Homo sapiens: one gene and its partners. The protein of the gene in region 6 purifies or fractionates together with the protein of the main gene of each other region. This does not show direct contact. Each region holds a gene or a part of one and is shown on either strand. Other genes may lie near its edges.

Region 1 (3,500 bases), on a different chromosome or scaffold from region 6:
TGGCCAGGCTAGTCTCGAACTCCTGACCTCAGGTGATCTCTGCTGGGCTCCCAAAGTGCTGGGATTACAAGTGTGAGCCACGGTGCCTGGGCCTTGTTCCTCTTTTTTCCTGGTAATTTTCTTTGTTGAGACATCTGTCTTATTTGATATTACTGTTGTTACGGTAGCTTCTTTTGATTGGTTTTTGCATGGCGTATCTTTTCCTATCCATTGCTTTGAACTTTTAACCTACCTGTATCTTTATATTTGAAATTAGTTTCCTGGTTCATTATTTTTATTCACTCTGCTAATCTCTGTCTTGTAGTAGTGTTTTAGGCCATTTACATTTAATCTAATTGTTAAATATTAGAACTTAAGTGTGCCATTTTATTGTTTTTTGATTGTTTCCTGTGTTTTTTCTTCTGTTTCCCTTTTCCTGCCTGCTGTGACTTACTCGAATATTTTTAGTATCTCATTTTGATTTATCTGTTATGTTTTGGTGTATATCTCCTTGTATGGTTTTCATAGTGGTGGCTATACAAATTACAATGTATTTATGTAATTCAACACAGTTTACTTGTACAGGTATTTTACTACTTCTAAGTGAAATATAGAAACTTTATCACCATTTAGGTCTCTATCCTCTCCCCTTTACAATTTAGTTGTCTTAAGTATTTCCTCTGCATACCTTGAGAACCGTATTAATATTATGATTTTTTTTAAATACCTAGCCTTTTCAGTAACTCAGGAGGAAACATATTTATCTGCATGTTTATCTGTTCTGTTATTTTTTCTTCATTCCACGATGCTCTAGGTTTCTTTCGTTTTTCCTTTATATTTGAAAAAATTTTTTCAGCAGTTGTCTTAGGGCAGGTCTGCTTGTGACAGATTCTCTTAGTTTTTCTCTACGGTTTTACAGTTTTCATCTGTCATCTCCATTTTGCTATTAAACTGCTCTTGTGATTTTTTGTTATTGTATTTTTCTTTGAAATTTCTATTTGTTTCTTCTTTATATCTCCTGTTTCTTTGCTAAGACTAGTTTTTCCTTTGTCTCAGGTGTTTGTAATTGCTCATTGAAGTATTTTTTATGACAGTCACTTTAAAATCCTTGTTAGACCTAAGTTCTGTGTTCTCTCTTGGTGGTATCTGTTGATTGACTGTGTTTTCTCATTCAAATTGCCATTTTTCTGGTTCTTGGTCATTTTTTATCATATTGTGGACATGCTGGGTATGATGTCATGAGACTCTGCTTCCTGTTTAAATCCCCTTACTTGAGAAGACTCCTCACTCGAGCCTGCTGGGTGCCACCTTGTTGCCGGGACAGTCATGGAGCTCCTGCCTCACCCACGGCCTCTGGCAGACCCTACTGGCTGGGAGAGTGAAGGGCACCACCTCGTTCTAGCCAGGCCGGGACAGCAGTCAGGATCCATTCTCACACCCCGGTGCTGGCTGCTGCGCAAGGCCAGGTGGACGAGGGGTGTGTGTGTGTGTGTGTGTATGTGTGTGTGTGTGTGCGCGCGAGTGGGGGTTTGCTTGCAGGAGGGCTGATGATGTGAAGAGAGTCTGTCCTGCAAGGCCCCTCCTGGTGCCAAGTGGACGAGGGGTGTGTGCGTGTGTGTATGTGTTGTTGTGTGTGTGGGTGGGGGTTTGCTTGCAGGAGGGCTGATGATGTGAACAGTGTGTGTGGTTGCAGGAGGGCTGATGATGTACAGAGAGTCTGTCCTGCCAGGCCCCTCCTGGTCCTTTGGCCATCGAGAGCAGGCTTACGGTTTTTGGTCTTTTTGTGTTTCTGGGCTGCCGACTTCTGTGGCACCCAGAGTGGGATGTGTAGTAAATAAGCATAAACAAAACCCCAGAGTCAAGCCAGGGACTCAGCGCTGGGTTCTCTCTCGAGTGCCGAGGCCCCTGGCTGGTTGGCTTCTGTTCCTTTCAGTCCCCCAATGCTTGTTCCGTATATTTTCCTCCAGGGCAGTGGGTCTAATATGCGGGAGGAGCAGGTTGAAATGTGTCCTCTCCATGTTGCCTGGAACTGGAAGAGCTCAAACCAAATTTTAAACTTAATCAGAACATATTCTGGTTGGGTGTGGTGGCTCATGCCTGTAGTCTTGGGAGGCCGAGGTGGATGGATCACCTGAGGTCAGGAGTTCGAGACCAGCCTGGCCAACATGGTCAGGAAACCACAAGACTGTCACGGAAACCCTTTTCTTTCAGTAACATGAGCCAAAGGTCACTGCACCTTGTCCCCTCCTGACCCTGTCCCGGTGGCAGGGTGTGGGGGACAATGAACTGCTTGTCTGTGTGCCTCCAAGTGGGGCAAAACCAGGCAGCATCCTGCTGTTTAGCTGCACCTGAGACGATGCCTGAGGGCTACCTGAGGAAACAGGGAAACGTGGGGTTTTAGCCGGATGTGGTGGCGTGTCCCTGTAATCCCAGCTACTCAGGAGACTGAGGCGGGAGAATCACTTGAACCTAGGAGGTGGAGGTTGCAGTGAGCCGAGATCGCACCACGGTACTCCAGCATGGGCAACAGAGTAAGACTCCATCTGAAAACAAAAACAAAAAAACCAAAACATATTCTAAAACATAAATGTTCCCAGGAAAGTATTGATGTATTCGGATCTAAACTGCCTTTTTGATTACGGAAACTTTCATCTTGTAATTAATGTTGATGTAGTGACTGCTTATGGGGTGCGTGGAGCTTGCACAGCCCGACCACAGTTGTAACAGGAGGACAGCAGACAGGTTACCCGACGAGTGGGTTTCAGATGGTGATGGCTGCAAGGGGTGACAGAATTGAGCAGCCAGAAGTGGAGGCGGGAGATGAAGTAGAGGGGTGTTCCTGGGGAGAGACGGTTTTGGAGGGAGAGGCAGTAAAGGTGGGAAGAAGCGTGTGGGCTTGGAGGTATTGTAGAGATAAACATAAGCCGAAACTTCAGGTACGTTCCTTGCTCGTCAGTGCTGATATTCCAACTCCAAAGGAGTTGCACTGAGTTCTAGGTGCCTCTTTCAGATTACGAGGATACATATCTCTCTGAGAAAAGCTGAAAATACAGAAATGTGTAAGAGGGAAAATAAAGGGATTTATTCCACAATAGGACACATGTGTTAAAGTTTGTCTTTCAATCTTTTTACATATACTGTTAGAGGAAGAAATGTTTTGAATGACCCTTGTCAGGCACAGTGAGGAAGGCTTTATTCAGAACCATTGAGGTGGGCCTGGGGCCACTGCGCTGGGATTTTGCAGTGGGGGAGAGAGATGGAGCTCAACTCCAAGTACAGCAGGGGCCGGGGGGAGTTTATAGCCTAGGGTCAGGGTGGGGGCAGTGGATGGAAAATGACTGAGAGGACACATGAGGAGTAAGGGGATTTGGGCTAAACCAACTGAACAGGATTATTGCGAAAGAGAGGCCAGGGTGAGCAGACACCACCTATGGGATCTGGGGATGAGGAACCTGAGCAGATACTGAGGGTGGGGGTTTTGGCCGCACTAAACTGGACTTTACAAGGAAGGGCACAGATGG
Region 2 (3,500 bases), on a different chromosome or scaffold from region 6:
CGTCGTGTGTCACAAAGCCCATGTAAATGTGGCAGGGATCTGAACCCCAGTCTGGCACCACCAGCTAGCTCCCCTGTGTTGCTCATTCCCCTGGGGCTGAGATGGAGAACCCAACAGGATTAAGGTGGTGCTCTCATTAGGCTGAACCACATGAAACTGACACCTGTGTAGGTTCAAAAATGGTTGGATATCAGCTGTTTCCTATGGTTCCGGTAACACCAACATTGCTTTGCAGGATTCCATGCAACAGGGACCTTCTGTATTCACCAAACCTCTCTGGAACATCGACTCTGTGCCAGGTACTGAGCTAATCTTCAGGATGCATGAAGAGCAGGGACAGTCCTTGCCCTCAGGCCATCCAAAACAATGCTGGCCCATGGTGAGCCCAAGCGGCTCCAAACCCAATCTGTAGCCATGGGAATGCTCTTCAGAGAGCTCTCTAGGGGCAGTGGTCAGTTTCTTGCACTCTTGAAGGCACAAGAGAAAGGGCTGGGGAGTTCCTGGTTGCTCACGGCTGTTAAGTGCGCAGGCTGCCGAGTCTGAATCCCGGCTGGGTTGTTTCTTGAGACCTTGGGCCAGGTTCCATTTCCTCCTCTGTGCAATGACAGTATCTACTTACACGGGATGTTTGAAAGACTCACACTAGCGTGACCACTGACCAGCCTGCTTTGTGGGGACTCCTCCTCGCATTATACAGAGCTTACCCACAGGCTTCTTGCCTGAGGAAATCCAGCCCACAGGCAGAAGGCTCTGCCCTACCCACTTCTGTTTAATCCCCCTTCCACCCTCAGTTCTCCAAGCTTTGGTCCCTGGAAGAGACTTTCCTTTATGCAGCCCCCGACTCTGCCTTCATTCCACCATCCTCAGGGGCATGGGTAGCCCTGATCAGGACCATCCCTCTGGGTTTTTCTCTCATACTGGGGCCTGCCCCCCAACATTCCACAGTGACCCCCCACACCTCTAGTGTTGGATTGAGAGCTGTTTGGGCAACCAGGGTTCCCAATGAGCTAGGGAGAGTCACTGCCCAAAGCACAGGAGGGGAAGGGCCAGTATTATGGTTCTGCTTAACAGACAAAGTCACCGAGGCAAGTGGAAGTCAAATCTCCTTCCCCACCTCATGCAGTGGCCTTTAAAGGCAAGGTCAGGCTGAGCGGGGAGGGTCACCTGAGCCCAGGAGGTTGAGGCTGCAGTGAGCCATGATTGTGCCACTGCACTCCAGCCTGGGCGGTAGAGCCAGACCCTGTGAAAAGAAGGCAAGGGTAGGGAAAAGGGGGAAAGGAGGGAAGGGAAAGGGAAGGAAAGGAAAGAAAAAAGGAAAGGAAATGAAAGCAAGATAAATTAAAAAAATAAAAGAAAGGTCAAGTCCAGGGCACTGCTCAGGGCGTAGAGGCCGCGCCCCCGACGACCTCCTGCCCCCTTCCCCCGCGTTACCGTCTCGGGGCTCGGGCTCGGTGCCGCGGAACCTGCCAGTGGCTCGGGAGTCCACCACCTGGAAGCGCCGGGATTCCAGGTTCTCCTTGATGTCCTCGTAGGTCTTGATGAAGGCGGGGTCGAGCTGAGCGCGGAACTCGGCGGGAGCAGGTTGGCTCTTGCCGGAGCTGAGCGGGAGGTTCTGGCGCAGCCAGTGGCGGAGGCCGCCATCAAGCAGTGACACGGCGTGGTGGCCGAAGGCGCGGAACATCCACCAGACGCGCGGGGCGGAGTAGAGGCCCTGGTCGCTGGCGTCGTAGATCACGACGTGGGTGGCCGCGCCCACGCCCAGGCGGCCTGCGTACTCCGCGAAATGCTCGGCCCCGGGCAGCATGTGGTCGTAGGGCGAGGTGCGGTCGCTGCACTGGTCGATGTCGAAGAAAGCGGCGCCCGGGATGTGGCGCTCCTCGAACTCGCGTCGCGCGTCGCGCCCCAGCTTCGGCAGGTACCAGGAGGCGTCCAGCAGCTGCAGAGGCTGCCCAGCGCGCGGGGCCCGCAGCGCCTCCGCCACCCATTGCGCCGACACCAGCGCGCGGCAGAGCTGCGGCGAAGCCATGGCGGCGACACTCGGGCTGCGGGCCTGGGCGACAGGGAGGATGTCAGAAGGGAAGCAGGGAGAGGCCGCTGTTGGGGCTAGGGCTGGGGCTGGAGCATGGGCGAGGGCCGGCGGGGGAGGTGCGGCCCGTGCAGGGCAGAGTCCAGGGAACGCAGAAACCAGTGGTGGTGAACCCGGGCACAAAGGTGGGTAGCCAGGGGCCTCCCTCTGCCAGGCCTCATATAAACACAAGCTCCGAGTGACCCAATGACCATGACCTCCCGGAGAGCCCCAGGCCACGCCCCTCACCTCCACTTGCTGGGCAGGAGGGTGGGTGGAGGTATCCTAGGGCAAGGCCCTGCTGGCTTCAAGGCACAAACAGGGGCAAAGTCTCCACCCCTCCCTAAGATGCAGCTCGGCTTTATTTGCAACCAAGTCCCAGACGGAAGTCATTCATTCACTCATCAAGCATTTATATTGGCGACCTAATAGGAACAGTAGCTGGAATTTACTGAGTCCTTGCTGGGTACCACTGAATCCTAACAATATCCTAGAACAATGCCTGACACAGTAGACTCTCCAGTATGTGTTGAATGAGTGATCTTAAGAGGCCTGGTATATTATTGTCACCGTTTCAAGGAGGACACTCAGGCTCACAGAAGTGCACTAACCTGGCCTGGTGCGGTGGCTCACGCTTGTAATCCCAGCACTTTGGGAGGCCCAGGCAGGTGGATCACCTGAGGTCAGAAGTTTGAAACCAGTCTGGCCAACATGGTGAAACCCCGTCTCTACCAAAAATACAAAAAATTAGCCGGGCTTAGTGGAGGGCACCTGTAATCCCAGCTACTCGGGAGGCTGAGGCAGGAGAACTGCTTGAACCCAGGAGGCGGAGGTTGCAGTGAGCCGAGATCGTGCCATTGCAATCCAGCCTGGGGAACAAGAGCAAAACTCTGTCTCAAAAACAAAAAACAAACAAGAAAAAGTGCACTAGCCTGACCCGGCGGTGCCAGGCTTCTCACTAGGCAGTCAGTCTGGCACCAGAATCCGGACTTCTCAGACACACACTCTGTGCAGGCTCCAGGAGTCTGGCGAGGCCAGGTTTTGCCTGTCCAGCCTGGGCTCTCTCTGGCCCTTCTAGCAGCAGCAACAGTGACTTCGCACCTCCCTCCCTCTCCTCTCTATCTTTCCTGCATACCAGAGACAGTGCACCAGCTCGCCAGCCCACTATGCCAGGCCAGCCCACAGCCTTCCTGGGTGTAAACTTCCCAAACACTTTAAGCCCTTTGTGCTGGGAAGCCACCGTTGTGCAGGTGAGAGGAAAGGGCCCCTTCTGCCAGGCAGAGGCTGAGCCCCCACCAGGGCACATGGCTGGGTGTGTGGAGTATGGGCTGCAGATCAGCCCTCACTTATCCCCTGTGTGAGGCCCAACCTTGACACCCACTGCATGCAGTCCTGCCAGCGAAATGAAGGGGGCAGGTAGAGAACAACATCTGTG
Region 3 (4,161 bases), on a different chromosome or scaffold from region 6:
CCTCTGTCGCCCAGGCTGGAGTGCAGTGGCGCGATCTCGGCTCACTGCAAGCTCCGCCTCCCGGGTTCACGCCATTCTCCTGTCTCAGCCTCCCGAGTAGCTGGGACTACAGGCGCCCGCCACCGCGCCCAGCTAATTTTTTGTATTTTTAGTAGAGACGGGGTTTCACCGTGTTAGCCAGGATGGTCTCGATCTCCTGACCTCATGATCCGCCCGCCTTGGCCTCCCAAAGTGCTGGGATTACCGGCGTGAGCCACCGCGCCCGGCTGCCTGTATGGAATTTCTATGAGAAATTATTGCATACTTTGTTGTCGGTTAGACCTGGGGTAAATCCCTGCTGCTGTCATTTATCTGCCGAAGTATTAGACGCATCTGGCTGAGCCTTAATTCATTCATCAAGCATTTATTGAGCTTCTACCATGTTCCAGCCCCGATCCTGGCACGGGGGCCCTGCTGTAAACAAAGCTGTTCTCTGCCCTCAGGAGCTTGCTCTCTGATAGGAGAGACAGGGACTGCAAGCTCAATCCCCACCAGAAGCGCTGTGAAGACAAAACAGGGTGATGTCACAGTGACTGGAGGAGGGGGCACCTTTGAGCAGGGTGGTGGTGGTGGGGCTCTCTGAGGAGGCAATACCATTGGTGTTTAAGAGTCAAATAAATGTTGCTCGTCTAGCTCTTGGTCCAGCACCTGACAGATATTAAGCGCTCAGCAAATCTCATAGTGACCCTAGTTGTCATTTTCATTAGTTTACTGTCCTCGCCACCGGGAGAACATGAGCTGGGGAGGATGCGGGGCAGGCTCGACGTTTCTCCTCTTTGGGCGCACAGCACAGAGCTGGCACACAGCTGATGAACACATGGCACCCGAAACCTCTGCACACAGTAGGGCTTGATAAACCAGCCCACTCTCCATCGGCCTCGCTAGGGAGCATCGTACAGAGCACCCGCCAAATGCTTCCTGGCCTCGGCCCCAGCCCGGCGCCCTGCCCTCGCGTTCCTTGCACACAGTGGGCGCTTAACGCTGCCGGCTCAAGAAATGCCCATTTCTGGGCCCTGCCTCGGCCCATTGCATGGGCCCGTGAACCGAAGCCTAGCTGGGCGGCGACGCGCCGCGAGCTCCCAGTGGGCTGGAGCCGGGAGCCCTGCCGGGGCTGAGCTGGGAAGGCGGGCACGCGCCTCCGCCCCAAGCTTCCGCGCCCAGCTGCGTCCAGCTGCGTCCCAGCCTCCGGCTCGCGGCGGTTGGCTGCGGCTCAGCGACGTCCGATTGGCCTGCGCGGCTCCGGCGCGAGCCCCGATTGGCTGTGACGCGCGGCCGGGCGAGGACCCCGCCCGCGCCGCCGCCGCGCCCGGCGCTGGGCGGTCATTGGGCGGCGTGATCTCGCCGCGGTTCCGCGGCCCTGCCGCCGCCGCCGCCAGCAGAGCGCACCGGGCCGATCGGGCGAGTGGCCATGGCGGGCGCCGAGAACTGGCCGGGCCAGCAGCTGGAGCTGGACGAGGACGAGGCGTCTTGTTGCCGCTGGGGCGCGCAGCACGCCGGGGCCCGCGAGCTGGCTGCGCTCTACTCGCCAGGTAAGACCTCTGGGCCCCCCTCCAGGCCTGCGGTCACCAGCCCCGGCTGCGGACAGCGACCCCAGACTGGAGTCCCAACCTCGGGCCCAGATGCGGAACTCCAGCCCGGGTGTCTAACTTGCAAATAGCAAGTTCGGGGACCCCACCCCAGTGTCCCTTCCGAACCCAAGCCAGAACCTTGGCCCCGGGGTTTCCTGGCTGCAGAGACACTCCCCAGATCAAGAAATTACCATGAGCTCCCTGGGCGACAAACGGAGCTCCCATCGGACCCGCAGATACGGAATCCTAGCCCCGGGGCATTCTCGGTTGTGAAGAGTGCTCCTAGACTTAGAACCCCACCCCCTCATCCCCCCAGGACCCGGTCCAAGCCCAAAGCTGCCCTTCAGCTGTAAGCACTGCCCTCAGGCCCCTAAAAGTCACACCTCATCCTGGGTTCCCCAGATCTGGAATCTACATCCTAGTACCTCCTCTGTGCCCTAGCCCAGGCCCTGGGCTGCAAACAATGACCTCACCTCCCTAACCTGGGAATGTCAGCCCCTCTGCCCAGGGAACCCTAACTCAGGGGCTTCCAGCTGCACGGTACCCCCCACACCCTTCCCCCAAAACCCCATCCTAGTGATAGCTTCAGTGGCTACAGACCGATATCCTCTCCCCAACCCTCCAGTGGTGAGCATCAGTCCTTGCCCCATATTCCTGGATCCCAGGCAGTGAGGGGACTGAATGTACCCCACTGTAAGCTCCCCTGTACATAAGCCCCAACTCTAGCTCTTGCCCCTCCCTCACATCCATGTATTGGCCCCTTCCTTAGGACTTGGGACTGGAACCCCCATATTCCCCAGACCAGATCATAAGTTGGAGTTCACCTCTCCCTCTCTGTCCCTTTCCCTCAGGCCACGGTTTCTCCCTAGCTTCTTCCTGCTTTGCTCACTGTATATGCTCCAGCAAGCACCCCCCCTACACCCACTTTTGTGACTCCTACGTGAGCCCTAGGAATTTTACTGTTTGGCCTCAGGAGGGCCCTATATCCCCAGGAGTTAAGGAAGTGCCTTTGAGAACTCCTGGTTCAGGTGACTGGGAGGCACCTCTACCTGGGTGTCACCATGGAATGAAGCTTTGTTTGTCAAATATCCTGACATCCTTCCTTTTTCTGTGGGGCAGCCACCAAGCACCACATGCAGCCCTTGCCTGGAGTGGGCCTGGGGTCACTAGCACCTTAGCTTTCTGCCCTCACTGGCCTGGGTTCCATGCCGTCTCTTCCTTAAAAGGCGGCATGGCCACGGACCATTTGCATTTCCTCACTGGGTCCTAGACCACTCCATTCTCTGTATGTGATTTTTCACACCTGACTTGGGCACCTGGTCCATGCCGCTATGGTTTCTTCAGGCCTATACCCAAGACACCCAGCCTATGGACTTAAAACCTCCTGCTCTCCTGGGGGTAGGCCAGGGTTAACATCCTGACTCTGTTATTCAGCTGTATGACCTGGTCCAAGCCACTTTCCGTCTCTGTTTCCCCTTGGTTTCCTTGCAAGTTAAAGTTTATCTGCCCCTTCGTGTTAGGAAGTGGAAATGAGATCGTCCACTGGCATTCAGTAGGCACTCCCTGTTGTTGTGTGGGTTTTTTTGTTGTTTTTTGTTTTGTTTTGTTTTATTTGTTTTGAGATGGAGTCTCACTCTGTTGCCCAGGCTGGAGTGCAGTGGCGTGATCTCGGCTCACTGCAAGCTCCTCCTCCCGGGTTCACGCCATTCTCCTGCCTCAGCCTCCTGAGTAGCTGGGACTACAGGCGCCCGCCACCATGCCCGGCTAATTTTCTGTATTTTCAGTAGAGATGGGGTTTCACTGTGTTAGCCAGGGTGGTCTCGATCTCTTGACCTTGTGATCCGCCCACCTCGGCCTCCCACAGTGCTGGGATTACAGGCGTGAGCCACTGTGCCTGGCGCCTCCCTGTTGTTAACAGTAGTCTGACCTTTGCTGTGGGGGATCCGCCTCACCTCTCTGGTCCTCAAACTCCCCACCTGGGAATTGGGGATAAGGATTCAAGGGCCTCCCTCTTTAGTGTCCAGCTCTGCCTGCTCCTGTGAACCCTACCTACTTTCAGACAGCCCAAATCATTCCCAGGCATTCTGAGCCTCCCCAGGGATTGCTGTTTCCCCACTCCACCACGATCAATTGCATATTTGTCCATTTCTGGTTTCCCCAAGTGCCCTTCACTCTCTGAAGAACAGCCATGCCTGAATCAGAGTCTGCAGACAGCCTGGTGCCCCAAATCTGCAATCAAGGCCCTTTATCTCCTCCAGACCTGGAGGTAGGGGAGGAGACTTGCCAAACTGGTTTCTCCAACTTCCTTTCCACTGGCCTCTCTGCTTCTATCTGCTCACTGTGTGATCTTGGGGAAGTATTTGACCTCTCTGGGCCTGAAAAAGTGAGAGACCAGGCTCAGTGCATATTGAACACCTATGTTCTAGTCCATGTTCTAGGCTCTGGGGGCAGAATGGTGAACAAGACAGAAAAAAATGGAGCTGGCCGGGCGCGGTGGCTCACACCCGTAATCCTAGCACTTTGGGAGGCCGAGGTGGGTGGATCACTTGAGGTC
Region 4 (3,500 bases), on a different chromosome or scaffold from region 6:
AGGAGAGGGCAATGAGGCCCAGCGGGAGATAGCAGCAAGGTAAGGTGGGCGGGCCTGGGACAGCGGACCCTCGACATGCGGGGTTAGGGGCGTGGACCCCCACTCAGCTCAAATCCAAGTACAACTTTTGACTCCCACGAACTTAACTAGGAATGGCTTCTCGCTGACCGGAGGCCTTGTGAGGACACTTGGTCAATGCACACCAGCCTCCTGTTCTCACAATAACAGGCTGGAGAACAGAAAATACATTCAGAAAAGTCTAAGGGGCCGGGTGCGGGGGCGCACGCCTGGAATCCCAGCACTTTGGGAGGCCGAGGCGGGCAGATCACGAGGTCGGGAGATCGAGACCAGCCTGGTCAACACGGTGAAACCCTGTCTCTACAAAAATACAAAAATTAGCCGGGCGTGGTGGCGCACACCTGTAATCCCAGCTACTCAGGAGGCTGAGGCAGGAGAATCTCGTGAACCCAGGAGGTGGAGGTTGCAGGGAACCGAGATTGCGCCATTGCACTCCAGCCCAGGCGACACAGTGACACACCATCTCAAAAAAAATAAAGGACAGGCTGGGCGCGGTGGCTCACGCCTGTAATCCCAGCACTTTGGGAGGCCGAGGCGGGCGAATCATGAGGTCAGGAGTTTGAGACCATCCTGGCCAACGTGGTGAAACACCGTCTCTACTAAAAATACAAAAAATTAGCCGGGTGTGGTGGTGCACAACTGTAGTCCCAGCTACTTGGGAGGCTGAGGCAGGAGAATCACTTGAACCCGGGAGGCGGAGGTTGCAGTGAGCCGAGGTTGCGCTACTGCACTCCAGCCTGGGCGACAGAGCAAGACTCTGTCTCAAAAAAAAAAGGAAAAAAAATAAAAGGAGAAATCCTGTTTGCTGTTCACACAGTGGAGGTGGCCACGATGAAGGCCTGTGTCCTTGTGTTCATATTGAGGGCTGAGGAGCAGGAGCAGGAGGGTGGGTCTGTCTCCGGGGTGGCAGAGGTGGAAGGGGAGGCAGGAGAGGCCGGCACCGTTGGGGCAGCCTTTATTGAAAAAATTCACATATGAGTGGACCTGTGCAGTTGAAGCCTGCCTTGTTGAAAGGTCATCTGTGTTTCCTTAGCATTTCAGGAGGGTTGAAAATGGAGAGGGGGCACTGACCTGGTCCAGAACGACCCCCTGAGCAAGTGATGTTGATGGAGAGTGCAGTGCCCCAGGCTCAGGGATGGAAGGCCCAGAGCCCAGAGGGGCTGGGCAGGTGGGAGCCATGGCAAGGCCGGAGCAGGAGGAGTGAGGGAGGCCCTGTGGCCCAGTGTGACCAGATCCGCATTGAGGGTGGAACGCGCCGTGGATGGGCCCAGGAGCGAGGCTGGGGAGTAGCAGCTGCAGACTCCAGGCAGGAGACAGCAGCGGGCTCGGTGGGGACGGCAGAAATGAGGGGTAGAGGATGCAGGTCCTCTTTGGAGGAAGCGAGTTCCTGTGGCCAGGAGAGGAGGCAGCTTGGCAGGTGAGGGCGTGGGGGGCTGTGGTGGGGGTCCCCAGACTTCTGGCTGGAGCATCACAAGCCAGGACAGGCTCAGGAGGGACAAGTACTGGCTTGGATGTGTTGGCGGGACCTGGGGCTGAGAGGTCCGCAGAGCAGTGTGTCCCAAGTGCTCTGTGCCTCAGTTTCCATGATTGAAACAAGGTCACTCAGACACATCTGTCCTGGGGCTGTGGGAACAAACGGACCCGATGGGTTGCTGACAGCCACAGGCCACACAGCAGAGAGAAAGAAAACAGCAGCTGAGGCCGGGCGCAGTGGCTCACGCCTATCATCCCAGCACTTCGGGAGGCCGAGATGGGCAGACATCTGAGGTCAGGGGTTTGAGACCAGCCTGGCCATCGTGGCAAAACCCCGTCTCTACTAAAAATACACAAATAAGCTGGGCGCGGTGGCACGCACCTGTAATCCCAGCTACTCAGAGTCTGAGGCAGGAGGATGGCTTGAATCCGGAAGGCAGAAATTGCAGTGAGCCAAGATTGCGCCACTGCACTCCAGCCTGGGTGACAGGGCGAGACTCCGTCTCAAAAAAAAAAAAAAGGTGGGGGGATGTCGGGACGAACTGGGGGTGCTGGGATAAAGTCTGGAGTTCACCGATGAGCAGAGAGGGGCCGGGCCTTGCCAGCTGTGAGGAGAGCAAGTGGCCTGGGCTTGGGCCTGGTCCCTGGCGGGGGTGCAGGGTGAGCTGAGACATGGCAGAGAGGAGGCTGGGAGCAGGCCTTGGTGGTGGCCCCAGTGTCTGGACCGTCGCGCAGGGGTCGGCGTTTGTGCTGGGGAGGAGGCCAGGGGTTGCACGCGGCTTCTGGGCTGTTCCCCGGTCCTGGATGGGCACCCGTCCATCTCAGCGCGCTGGAGCCTGGCACACAGTAGGCACGCAGTGATTGTGCATTGAATGATCTGTGGGAATTAAACATCTGATTCTCTCATGGGGCTTGAAGGGAGAACTGAAGATCTCCAGGGTTGCACTTTTGTAGATGTGCACATTGGCTGGTCCCATGAAGTTAGTATCTAAAATACCTTTTTCTTTTTTTTGAGACGGAGTCTCGCTCTGTTGCCCAGGCTGGAGTCCAGTGGCGCGATCTCCGCTCACTGCAAGCTCCGCCTCCCAGGTTCATGCCATTCTCCTGCCTCAGCCTCCCGAGTAGCTGGGACTACAGGCACCCGCCACCACACTTGGCTAATTGTATTTTTTAGTAGAGACGGGGTTTCACCATGTTAGCCGGGCTAGTCTCAAACTCCCGACCTCAGGTGATCCGCCCACCTCGGCCTCCCAAAGTGCTGGGATTACAGGCGTGAGCCACCGCACCTGGCCTCCCCTCCTTTTTTGTTTTTTTGAGACAGAATCTTGCTCTATTGCCCAGGCTGGGGTACAGTGGCGTGATCTCCGCATGCTGCAGCCTTCAGCTCCCTGGCTCAAGCAATTCTCCTGTCTCAGCCTTCTGAGTAGCTGGGATTACAGGTGTGCGCCACCACGCCCAGCTAATTTTTGTATTTTTAGTAGAGACAGTATTTCCGTCATGTTGCCCAGGGTGATGGTGAACTCCTGAGCTCAGGTGATCCACCCACCTCGGCCTCCCAAAGTGCTGGGATTCCAGGTGTGAGCCACCGCGCCCAGCCTAACGTATCTTTATTCACTCTATCATGGAACTGTCAGCATTGTAGCGAGGTCTAGAAGTAGAACAATCTGGGTGGGTGTGGTGGCTCACGCCTGTAATCCCAGCACTTTGGGAGGCCGAGTCAGGCGGATCACGAGGTCAGGAATTTGAGACCAGCCTGGACAACATGGTGAAACCCCGTCTCTACTAAAAATACAAAAAATTAGCCTGGTGTGGCGGTGGGCACCTGTAATCCCAGCTACTTGGGAGGCTGAGGCAGGAGAATTGCTTGAACCCGGGAGGCGGAGGTTGCAGTGAGCCAAGATCACGCCACCACACTCCAACCTGGGTGACAGACTGAGACTCCGCCTCAA
Region 5 (2,244 bases), on a different chromosome or scaffold from region 6:
TATTCCTGATGGGCTTTTCTAAAAAAAAAATTGAATTTATACTAAAACATTATTATGATTTAATTTTTATGTGTAAAGACACTACCTATATGCTTTATTCACATTTTAGTGAACTACATTGTTTTATCTTTCTGAAAATCTTTTTGTTTGAGACAAGGTCTCGCTCTGTCACCCAGACTGTAGTGTAGTGGTGTGACCTCGGTTCAGTGCAACCTCTGCCTTCTGGGCTCAGGTGATCCTCCCACCTCAGCCTCTTGAGTGGCTGGGACCACAGGCATGTGCCACCACACCAGGCTAATTTCTGTATTTTTTTTGGTAGAGACAAGGTTTTGCCACGTTGGCCAGGCTGGTCTTGAACTCCTGGGCTCAAGTGCTACACCCGCCTCGGTCTCCCAAAGTGTTGGGATTACAGGCGTGAGCCACCGTGCCCAGCCACCTGGCCTCTTTCTATAAATCTTAAGGAGGTGTTATGAAAGAGGAGAATGAGAAAATTCATTAATTTGACACCTTTTCAGGTTTAACAGTCGTTTGTTTGTCTGTGTTGACTCTTGCCGTTAGACCTGGTTATCACTGCTGCCTTTTCTGCGTTTCTTCCTTCCTTGTAGATCTGGGACATGACACCTGTGGTGGGCTGCAGTCTGGCGACTGGGTTTTCTCCGCACTGATCTGAGAGCTGGGCGGCGTCCACACCTAAGAACAGCAGCTCCACCAAATGAAGTCCCTCTCACGCAGCTCCACAGCGCTGTCTCGTGAATGGACAGTAGCCACTTACAAACAAATCAACATTTTTAAAAAGAAAATGTAAAGGTGTGTTTTGGGGCATTTGTGGAACTTACCCATGGGGACTAATATGGAAAAGGTCTGTCCATAGTGGTTCCCTGAAGACTGGAATTACTTCAGCAAAACTTCCCCATGAACAGCTAATGTGTAGTGAAAGAATGAGCTAGCAAATGAGTTTTAGCGGGGACAAAAAATCAAACAAAAAAGTGAATGCTTAGAACCTTCTCAAAGCAGTCACAAGTACAGACACTTCACTTAGCCTAGGGGGCCTTCCAGGGTTCTTGTGGCTGTTGTCAGAGCAGGAGCTGGGGGAGGGAAGACTTGTTCTCTCTTTCTTGAGGGGTGGCATTAGGAACTTACGAAACCAGAGACCTTTCCCTATGACTTGGCAGTATGTGAATATCCTCTACACTTAGTTATTGATAAACTTCTTAAAGAGATCTGTTATTTTCAGGTAGTGCCATAATCTGCACTTAGCATTGGCTTGCTTCAGTTGTTTCTCTTCCCAGCCAGTATGCCACAGGTGAACTTTCGGGGTTGTCATTAAGTAAGTTGTGAAATTTCTGTAATAACAAAGGCAGTCCGCATTCTTCCCTTTCCCCCAAATTCCTAGGGCAAAACTTTTTTATGGTGCTGTTAACATGGGAGTCACACAAGCCGCCTGACTTTTTCTCATTGCCATTAGTAATGACTGATGGAAAACCCAGCCACCACTGTGATGCGAAATGATCAGTCTGTTGCCTGAAACAGCCCAGTCCTCTTAACTGAAACAGCATTCTACTTCTTGTTCCAAGATGAGCCTCTGCAATATTCTGGCAATTTAATATACCCCCTACAAAAGCACTCCACAGCTTTTACACTATTTTGACTTTGAGTTATAACTAGTATTATTCATGTTTTCATAAAAAGAAGTTAGTGACCCAGAGCTATAATCATCCATCAAGTCTTCCACAATAATTCCCAACTCATAAATTGCTTTCCTAACAACTAGCAAAAGCTATTGTTCATAATGGCATTTCTAAAGCTTTTGGGCACTGTGTACCAGGATGAGGAAGAGAAGAAATGAGGAGCCTGTCTTTTAATATTCCAGTATTTGTGTGTTTGATTTTTTTTGACAACAGTACATATATCTATTTCTCTAGGGATATGGAAGTAAGTGGAGAAGGGCCTACCTTTTTAAAGGACAAATATAAAAATAGCAACAGTATCTTTGCTAATCTTACTAATAGATATTGATTAAAAAAAAAAAACCTCAGTACTGCATCACTGTGTTGGGATCATACCAGGACAATAGGGTCATTCCATATGATAAAACTAAAGGACTAAATTTGTTTTATAATGATGTCTTAGAGGGACTGAAAGGTTTAAGGAGGCGATCAAACTAAAATGTCTTAATGGCTGTGTGACACACGTAAGGAAAGGAAAGGGGGTCACGCACATCATGTACTGGAATGATCTGCATTA
Region 6 (3,500 bases):
AAAGGCTCTAGAATTGTTGGAAGAATCTGGAAAGCAGATTCTTCCCAGGAAATAGGCATGATGGGGTGTGAAAGGAAGGTTGCCACAAGGGAAAATGGCTAGACTTGTGCAAAAGAATGAATGGACAAAAGATCACCAAGGGGTTTTGGTCCCATTACGAAGTGAGTGTTTAACTAGTAGAGCCACTGAGATGGAAGATACACCTTACTTCTTGGGAAGTAGTGAGTTCCCATCGCCAGTGGTTTGTAGATAACAGACCCTGTTTCAGTCCACTTGGAAGAGATACTGTAGCAGGAATTCTTAAGCAGGATTGAACGTATAATAAGCAAGATCTCTTCCACCTCTAAAATTCTCTGGTTGTGGGTATTGAGAGCTACATAATAATAATAGCACCTGACATTTTTCACATTTCTGGAGCATTTACTATGCACCAGGAACTGTTCAAGACTTTCCATTTAATCCTCACAACAGTTGCATAGGTAGGTGCTGTTATTATTCCTCCCTCATATATGAGGAGACTGCAGCACAGCACCTAAGATTGCATGGCTGTGGGTAGTGGAGGTAGAATTGGAACCCAGGCTTTGGCTGTCAGGCTACACTCTCACCCTGTGTACTGCCGCCCGAGCAGAGCAGTGTACCATCAGCCTCGGCATCCATGGATTTCACCAACCATGGACCAAAGATATTTGGAAAAAAAAAATGCAACAATAAAAACAATAATACAAAATATATATATATATGTGTATATATATAGCATATATATATATTTTGTATTATTGTTTTTATAATATATATAGCATATATATTATATATGCTAAAATATATATATAGCATATATATACACACACATATATATATATACACATATATATATATATACACATATATATATATATATATATATACACATATATATATATATATGGCCAGGCACAGTGGCTCATACCTGTAATCCCAGCACTTTGGAAGGCCGAGGAGGGAGGATCACTTGAGGCCAGGGGCTCAAGACCAGCCTGGTCAACATAGCAAGAAAATAAAAAATAAATTCTACAAAAAAAATTTTTTTAAATAGAGTATAATAACTATTTATATAGTGTTTACATTGTCTTAGATATTATAAGTAATTTAGAGATGATTTAAAGTATACAGGAGGATGTGCATAGGTTATTTGTAAATACTATACCATTTTATATCAGAGATTTGAGCACCTGCAGATTTCAGTGTCCATGGACAGTCCTGGAACCGGTACCCTGTGGATACTGCAGGAGGTCTGTACTTTTTTATAGGAAGGTCAAAATCTCAAACTGAGATGGCACTCCTTTATTCTGCTGTAGAACTGTAATTTGGGATGTCAGTGTGGGATTCAGGAAGTATCATGAATGACTGCTATGTAATTTTTCTTTATATTCCTATCCTTCTAGATAATTTTTCATTATTTTCTAGTCATGGAACTATATCTTTGTTAAACTTATTGGAAATAAAATACCCAAGAATTTTTGCTCTCTTTCTCTCTTTATCAGATTAATAGAACTGAATCTCTGACATTCCAAATTAATCCTGCTCTTTAAAGAAATTTTCTTTTAGGCTCTTCATTACAAACTATTCTTGCTGATCAAATTCCACGTAATGTCTGAGGAAAACAGATTCCACTGGCAGTTGCTTTTGTTACATTTGAGTGGAGAAATTTCCTTGGTCATTACACCAAAATATTGACCAGAAAGGTCCTGTTGCTCCTCAACTTCAGGGGAAACAATAGGGTTCAGGTCTGAAACTCAGACTTGTTTGAGAAAGATAATGTGCTTTCTTTCCTTCTTAGGGTGTGAGATGAACTAGAACATTTCAATATCTTGAGCGTCCAACAAAATGCTACTTGGGCAATCTGAGCCAATGATTATGCCAAGTTCTTTGTAGGAGAGGAATTGGCTTGAAAACTTTATCTTCTTTCTCAGTGTATCTATGGTGGAAGAACACTGGATCAAGGAACTCTAAATAATAATTCTTGGAGCAGCTATTTCAAATCTTATTCTTACATGCTAATAGAAAAAAGATAGGATTATTATTTCCTCCCTCACTCAGAATGCAGTGATAACTACCAAATAAACCAATGTGAAAGAGTCAGTTGTCTTGGACACCATCTCTACTTCAGATAAATCTGGGTGCATAGCTTGAGCCAGTAATTTGGGCTAAAGTGTGTTTCGGACTTAGAAATTTGTGCAATAGTCAACTGTCTAAAGCAGTGTTGTTCAAATAGAACTATAATGTGAGACACACAAGTATTTTAAAATTTTCTAGTAGCTACCTTAAAAAAGTAAAAAGAAATGTGAAATTAATTTTAAGGACTTAACCCAATATGTTGCAAAATATAATTTCAACATGTATTCAATATAAAAATTATTAGATATTTTAGGCTGGGCACGGTGACTCACGCCAGCACTTTCGGAGTAATCCCAGCACTTTCGGAGGCCAAGGCGGGCGGATCACAAGGTCAGGAGATCGAGACCATCCTGGCTAACACGGTGAAACCCCGTTTCTACTAAAAATACAAAAATTAGCTGGGCATGGTGGCCGGTGCCTGTAGTCCCAGCTATTTGGGACGCTGAGGCAGGAGAATGGCGTGAACCCGGAGGGCAGAGCTTGCAGTGAGCCGAGATCGCGCCACTGCACTCCAGCCTGGGCAACAGAGCGAGACTCCATCTCAAAAAAAAAAAAAAAGATATTTTAATGTAGGTCTTTGAGATCCAGTGTATATTTTACAATGACAGCATATCTCATCGTGGACTGAATTTTCACCAAAAATATTTTATCTGTATTTACATTTTGTAAAATTCACAGCTAAAAAGTTAAATTTACATACAGGTTTCTCCTAACATACCTTAAAGATTTTCAATATGAAATAAGTGCCAAAAAGATACTTTATCTTTAATCTTTGTGTCTACCTTGCCATCTACCTTGGTCTTTTTCAGAAGATTTGAGTTTGAAGCAAAGTGAAATGCAGTTTTGCCAAAACAATAAAGTTGCATTTAATTGAAAAATATTTTACGTTGCTTCCATTTTAAATTTAGATGTAAACTAATTAAAAGTTAGATATTCAATTTCTTGTTCCTACAAGCTGTATTTCAGGTGCTCAACAGTCACATATAGTTAGTGGCTACTGCATCGGCTAGCACAAGTCTTAAGCTTACTTTATAGTTGCAAAGACTCATACACTTTTCCCTTGAATCTAGCTCGTGTCTCATACTCAGTGTTTGGTTATAAGGGGGGTGGGATACGTGACATCCACCCACCAAACTGCAGCCTGCTTTTCCCTTGTCACCAAGTAGAGGCCTGCAGAAGGAGGGAGAAGATAGAGACTGGTGGAAACCAGTCTGTCAGAGCAGGGGAAAGTAACTATTCTCTGTCCTTTTGCTTGGCAGGTCCATCTCCCATTTGCAGTGGTTGGCAGCACCGAAGAGGTGAAGATTGGCAACAAGATGGCAAAGGCCAGGCAGTACCCCTGGGGT
Region 7 (3,500 bases), on a different chromosome or scaffold from region 6:
CAGGAAAGACCTCAAAGAGAAAGTAGCATTTAATGTGGACCTTGAAGGATGATTAGAAGTTTTGTCAGATGGTGGAGGTGAAACACTCCATCTTAAGCAGAACAAATATGAAAAGATAGGAGAGCATGAAATATCAATGAGGAATAACCCAGTTTCACTAGGTAGGGAAATAGTAAGAAACAAGTCTGGAGAGGGAAGCTGGGACTCTGCTGGGCTGGCGAGTTAGAGCAGAGTTCCACGTGAAGTGAGGCATCGTCGAGGATTTAGTTGTCACTGTCTAGTGAAATGCATCTAAAAGAGCAATCTGACAGTGTTCTGTAGGGTCTGCTTAGCAATGACTAAGTTACGTACACACCATTCTTTGAATTTGACTTTGAATTTGGTATGTAGAACCTGAAGTTATTGTGTGCCCAAATTCATAGTGAGAAGATGTGTTTATGCATAGGTCACACACTTAGTACGCATTAGTATACAATAATGGTGACATAGCACTTTGTTTAAGAGTGTAAACATGTAGCACGGAAGTTGAGGTAACTTATAGTTATGGTTTTTGTCTCAGGTTGACAAGAATTCTACCTGCCCTGGTAGGGTGATCATATTGTTAGAAAAGGGTCTTCTGAGTTCTTCAGAGTTGCTCCAAGGCAGGAGTTTAAGGAAAGTAAACCATGGACACCCTGGATTAATTTTTTTGTTTGTCTAAAGTATTACATAGATTGTGGCTTTGAATAAATTACCTTTCTGGAAGCTCAGCCAAGCATAGTAAACTACAAGAGAAGACATCTAACTGTCACTCCTCCCTGGCCCCCACTGGCTCTCCTCCCTCGGCGCACACCTAATCCAGATGTGAAATTAAGTGCTTTCACACAGGTCCATTTATAAAGGAAATTAGGTGGGAGACTTGATTCCAGAGGGATCTTGACCTTATTCCCCAGTTTTCTTTATATTGATTTTAAAGCCTATATATTGGTTGAAAATCATTGGGAAAATAGTTGTGGAGAAGATAGGTAGTATTTTAAAATGTGACTAATGCTAGTTTTGATGGTTTAATAGTTTGGGTACTGTATTATTCTGTTTTATATTGCTACAAAGGAATATCTGAGCCTGGATGATTTATAAGTAAAAGAGATTTGTTTGGCTTATGATTCTGCAGGCTATACATGCATGGTGCTAGCATCTGTTCAGCTTCTGGTGAGGCCTCAGGAATCTTTTACTCATGGCAGAAGGTGAAGGGGGAGTAGACGTGTCACATGGTGAGAGAGGGAATGAGAGAGGCCAGGATCTTTTCAAGAACCAGCTCTCATGTAAAGGAACAGAGTGAGAACTCACTCATTACCATGGAGAGGTCACTAAGCCATTCATGAAGGATCTATCCCCATGACCCAAACACCTCCCACCGGGCCCCACCTCCAACACTGGGCATCACATTTCAACCTGAGATTTGGAGGGGACAAATACCCAGACTACATAAGGTAGTATAAGTCTAATCTATTACATTCTGCCACTGTAGGTATGATTAGTACCTACCAAATTTATACTGATACTAGCTTCTTCATAAAGATTCTCAGAAGAGGTAATTTAAGTCTTTCTTGCATTGTTTTTATAGTCATAAAATAACCTTAACTAATAATATACTTTCTCCTTTGTCTAAATTAAAAAACCCCCCTGCTTGAATTTAAGCCTTTCCTTTTCATTTCATCGTTTGAAGATACTATTGATTTTGATGGCAAATCATGGAATGAATTTTATACCTATGTTAGTCACTCGAAGTGTTTGGTAATTTAGTTTACCATGTTTTAGTCTAACATAGAAACACAATCTAATATTTTTGAATTCTCTTTCGTTAAGGCATTGTGTCCAGATCTGGCACCCTGACTTATGAAGCAGTTCACCAAACAACGCAAGTTGGATTGGGGCAGTCTTTGTGCGTTGGTGAGGGACTTTTGCTAAAATCATTTTATTGGAGTGTGGTGTCTTCATTGGATGAGTATAATAATAATTATTGATTTTATTATTTGCAAAAGATTTTGATACTCTTATGAAAAGGATGTTACGATCTCAAATTTAATTTGCTTAAGTGTAAAGTTATTCTGTAGTTGTTTCAAGATTCATGGTCCAAGATTTCATTTCTAGGTTGAAGAACTAACATCTTGGAACACGTGGCTCCCGAAGCACCTTGGTGCCTGAAAACATCACTTGGTTTGATTGCTCTGAAGAAATGGTTCCTTATATTAGGACTTTTGTTATCATTGCCATTATGTTCATCAGTGCTTTATAGTTACTGAATTCTTTGCCATTCAGTGTCTCATTCTTGAGGGAAGCCTCTCAGGTGCCTCTGAGCTGGAAAATTGTACTGTTAGAGCCTTATTGGTGAGAAAGTCAAGGTTGAGGAAGGTTCATTTCCTCAGAACCTCTCTTTTTATCACACTATACTGCCTCCCATTTGAAAAAGTAAAAATTACAAATTTTTACATTTTAAAATAATTTCATTATTTGTTGCCAAAAGCCAAGGCAAATTCCTCCTTTTCATATTAATAAATATTCTTTCAAGTTCTTAGAATACCTGTTAATGTTTTAGAATTATCTTTACGAAAAAGTAACATATAGCTCTGGAGTGTTTTTATTAAGATTCAAATTCATAAATTAAATATTGAAAACATTAATTGAGCATTTGTACATGCAAAGCACAATATAAGTGGAAGATACTTTTTAGTGTGACAGAGAATAAGAAAAGGTTTGAAACAGGCTTACCGATTCCTTCTTTTCCAGCTTCAGTTTTGAATTTGTAAGTGGAGGATAATAATGCCTATCTCACAGAGAAGTTGAGAAAATTAGGAAATGACAGATCTAACGTGTGCCAAAGCATAGGACTTGACACACGGTTGGCACTTAATAAATGCCGGTTCTCTTCTTCCACTCCATTTTTCAGAGATGCAGTGAAAAGAAAGAAATCAATCCTGCCCTCAGTAAGTTTGTAATTTAAAAATAAAAAACGGCAGCCTGTCTGTAGGGAACATTTACTTTAACCCTGTCCATGAATTTGTTCTTAAATGTGGTGTGTAGTATGGCTCTGATATGCATGCTCTGTCATCATCCACTCTGGATCCAGAACACGAGCAGTCAGGGTACTCACTGTCACTCACTGGCACTTGTGTCTTAAAACTTGTGGGTGATTTATCTGCAGCATACTTCATCAAATAGTTTCTTTACTCAAAGAAATTTGTTAAATGTTTATTCTTTCCTCTGGTGTAACATCAGCATGCAACACAGATACACATTTTCTTAAAATGTTCATTTCTAAGGAGTTATCTGGGAATAATTTTGTGGGACAGAAGAGGCTTGATAAAGGAGCTAAAACAAAAAGAGGGTTGTCTTCGTTACAGCCCTAGAATATTCCTAGAATATCAGGAACCAACCACCATTTAGCATTTATATAATATTACCAACAGAAATAAATGTAGCATTTTGTGATTTTTTAAATATTAAATGCAAGAGCAATGATA

Evidence for each region.
Region 1: the proteins of SEPTIN11 (region 6) and CEP72 purify together in Homo sapiens (affinity purification with mass spectrometry; one large-scale study listed by BioGRID and IntAct). This does not show direct contact.
Region 2: the proteins of SEPTIN11 (region 6) and MPST fractionate together in Homo sapiens (co-fractionation; one large-scale study listed by BioGRID). This does not show direct contact.
Region 3: the proteins of SEPTIN11 (region 6) and PEDS1 fractionate together in Homo sapiens (co-fractionation; one large-scale study listed by BioGRID). This does not show direct contact.
Region 4: the proteins of SEPTIN11 (region 6) and BTBD2 purify together in Homo sapiens (co-immunoprecipitation; one large-scale study listed by IntAct). This does not show direct contact.
Region 5: the proteins of SEPTIN11 (region 6) and WDFY1 purify together in Homo sapiens (affinity purification with mass spectrometry; one large-scale study listed by BioGRID and IntAct). This does not show direct contact.
Region 7: the proteins of SEPTIN11 (region 6) and SUCLG1 fractionate together in Homo sapiens (co-fractionation; one large-scale study listed by BioGRID). This does not show direct contact.

Annotation. Positions count from the first base shown.
Region 1 is NC_000005.10:615,340-618,839, forward strand, and holds part of CEP72 (centrosomal protein of 72 kDa), read left to right. Parts: intron 1-2,489; exon of another isoform or gene 2,490-2,510; intron 2,511-3,500. UniProt on the Homo sapiens protein: Involved in the recruitment of key centrosomal proteins to the centrosome.
Region 2 is NC_000022.11:37,022,742-37,026,241, reverse strand, and holds part of MPST (3-mercaptopyruvate sulfurtransferase), read right to left. Parts: intron 2,491-3,500; exon of another isoform or gene 2,315-2,490; intron 2,051-2,314; coding exon 1,432-2,050; intron 1-1,431. UniProt on the Homo sapiens protein: Transfer of a sulfur ion to cyanide or to other thiol compounds. Also has weak rhodanese activity. Detoxifies cyanide and is required for thiosulfate biosynthesis. Acts as an antioxidant.
Region 3 is NC_000020.11:50,150,924-50,155,084, reverse strand, and holds the start of PEDS1 (plasmanylethanolamine desaturase 1), read left to right. Parts: upstream 1-1,361; 5' UTR 1,362-1,447; coding exon 1,448-1,568; intron 1,569-3,769; exon of another isoform or gene 3,770-3,873; intron 3,874-4,161. Other genes in the region: PEDS1-UBE2V1 (TMEM189-UBE2V1 fusion protein), read left to right, coding at 1,448-1,568. UniProt on the Homo sapiens protein: Plasmanylethanolamine desaturase involved in plasmalogen biogenesis in the endoplasmic reticulum membrane.
Region 4 is NC_000019.10:2,009,215-2,012,714, reverse strand, and holds part of BTBD2 (BTB/POZ domain-containing protein 2), read left to right. Parts: intron 1-3,500.
Region 5 is NC_000002.12:223,877,092-223,879,335, reverse strand, and holds part of WDFY1 (WD repeat and FYVE domain-containing protein 1), read left to right. Parts: intron 1-605; coding exon 606-665; 3' UTR 666-2,244. UniProt on the Homo sapiens protein: Positively regulates TLR3- and TLR4-mediated signaling pathways by bridging the interaction between TLR3 or TLR4 and TICAM1.
Region 6 is NC_000004.12:77,015,752-77,019,251, forward strand, and holds part of SEPTIN11 (septin-11), read left to right. Parts: exon of another isoform or gene 1-3,413; coding exon 3,414-3,500. UniProt on the Homo sapiens protein: Filament-forming cytoskeletal GTPase. May play a role in cytokinesis. May play a role in the cytoarchitecture of neurons, including dendritic arborization and dendritic spines, and in GABAergic synaptic connectivity.
Region 7 is NC_000002.12:84,431,781-84,435,280, reverse strand, and holds part of SUCLG1 (succinate--CoA ligase [ADP/GDP-forming] subunit alpha, mitochondrial precursor), read left to right. Parts: intron 1-1,845; coding exon 1,846-1,929; intron 1,930-3,500. UniProt on the Homo sapiens protein: Succinyl-CoA synthetase functions in the citric acid cycle (TCA), coupling the hydrolysis of succinyl-CoA to the synthesis of either ATP or GTP and thus represents the only step of substrate-level phosphorylation in the TCA.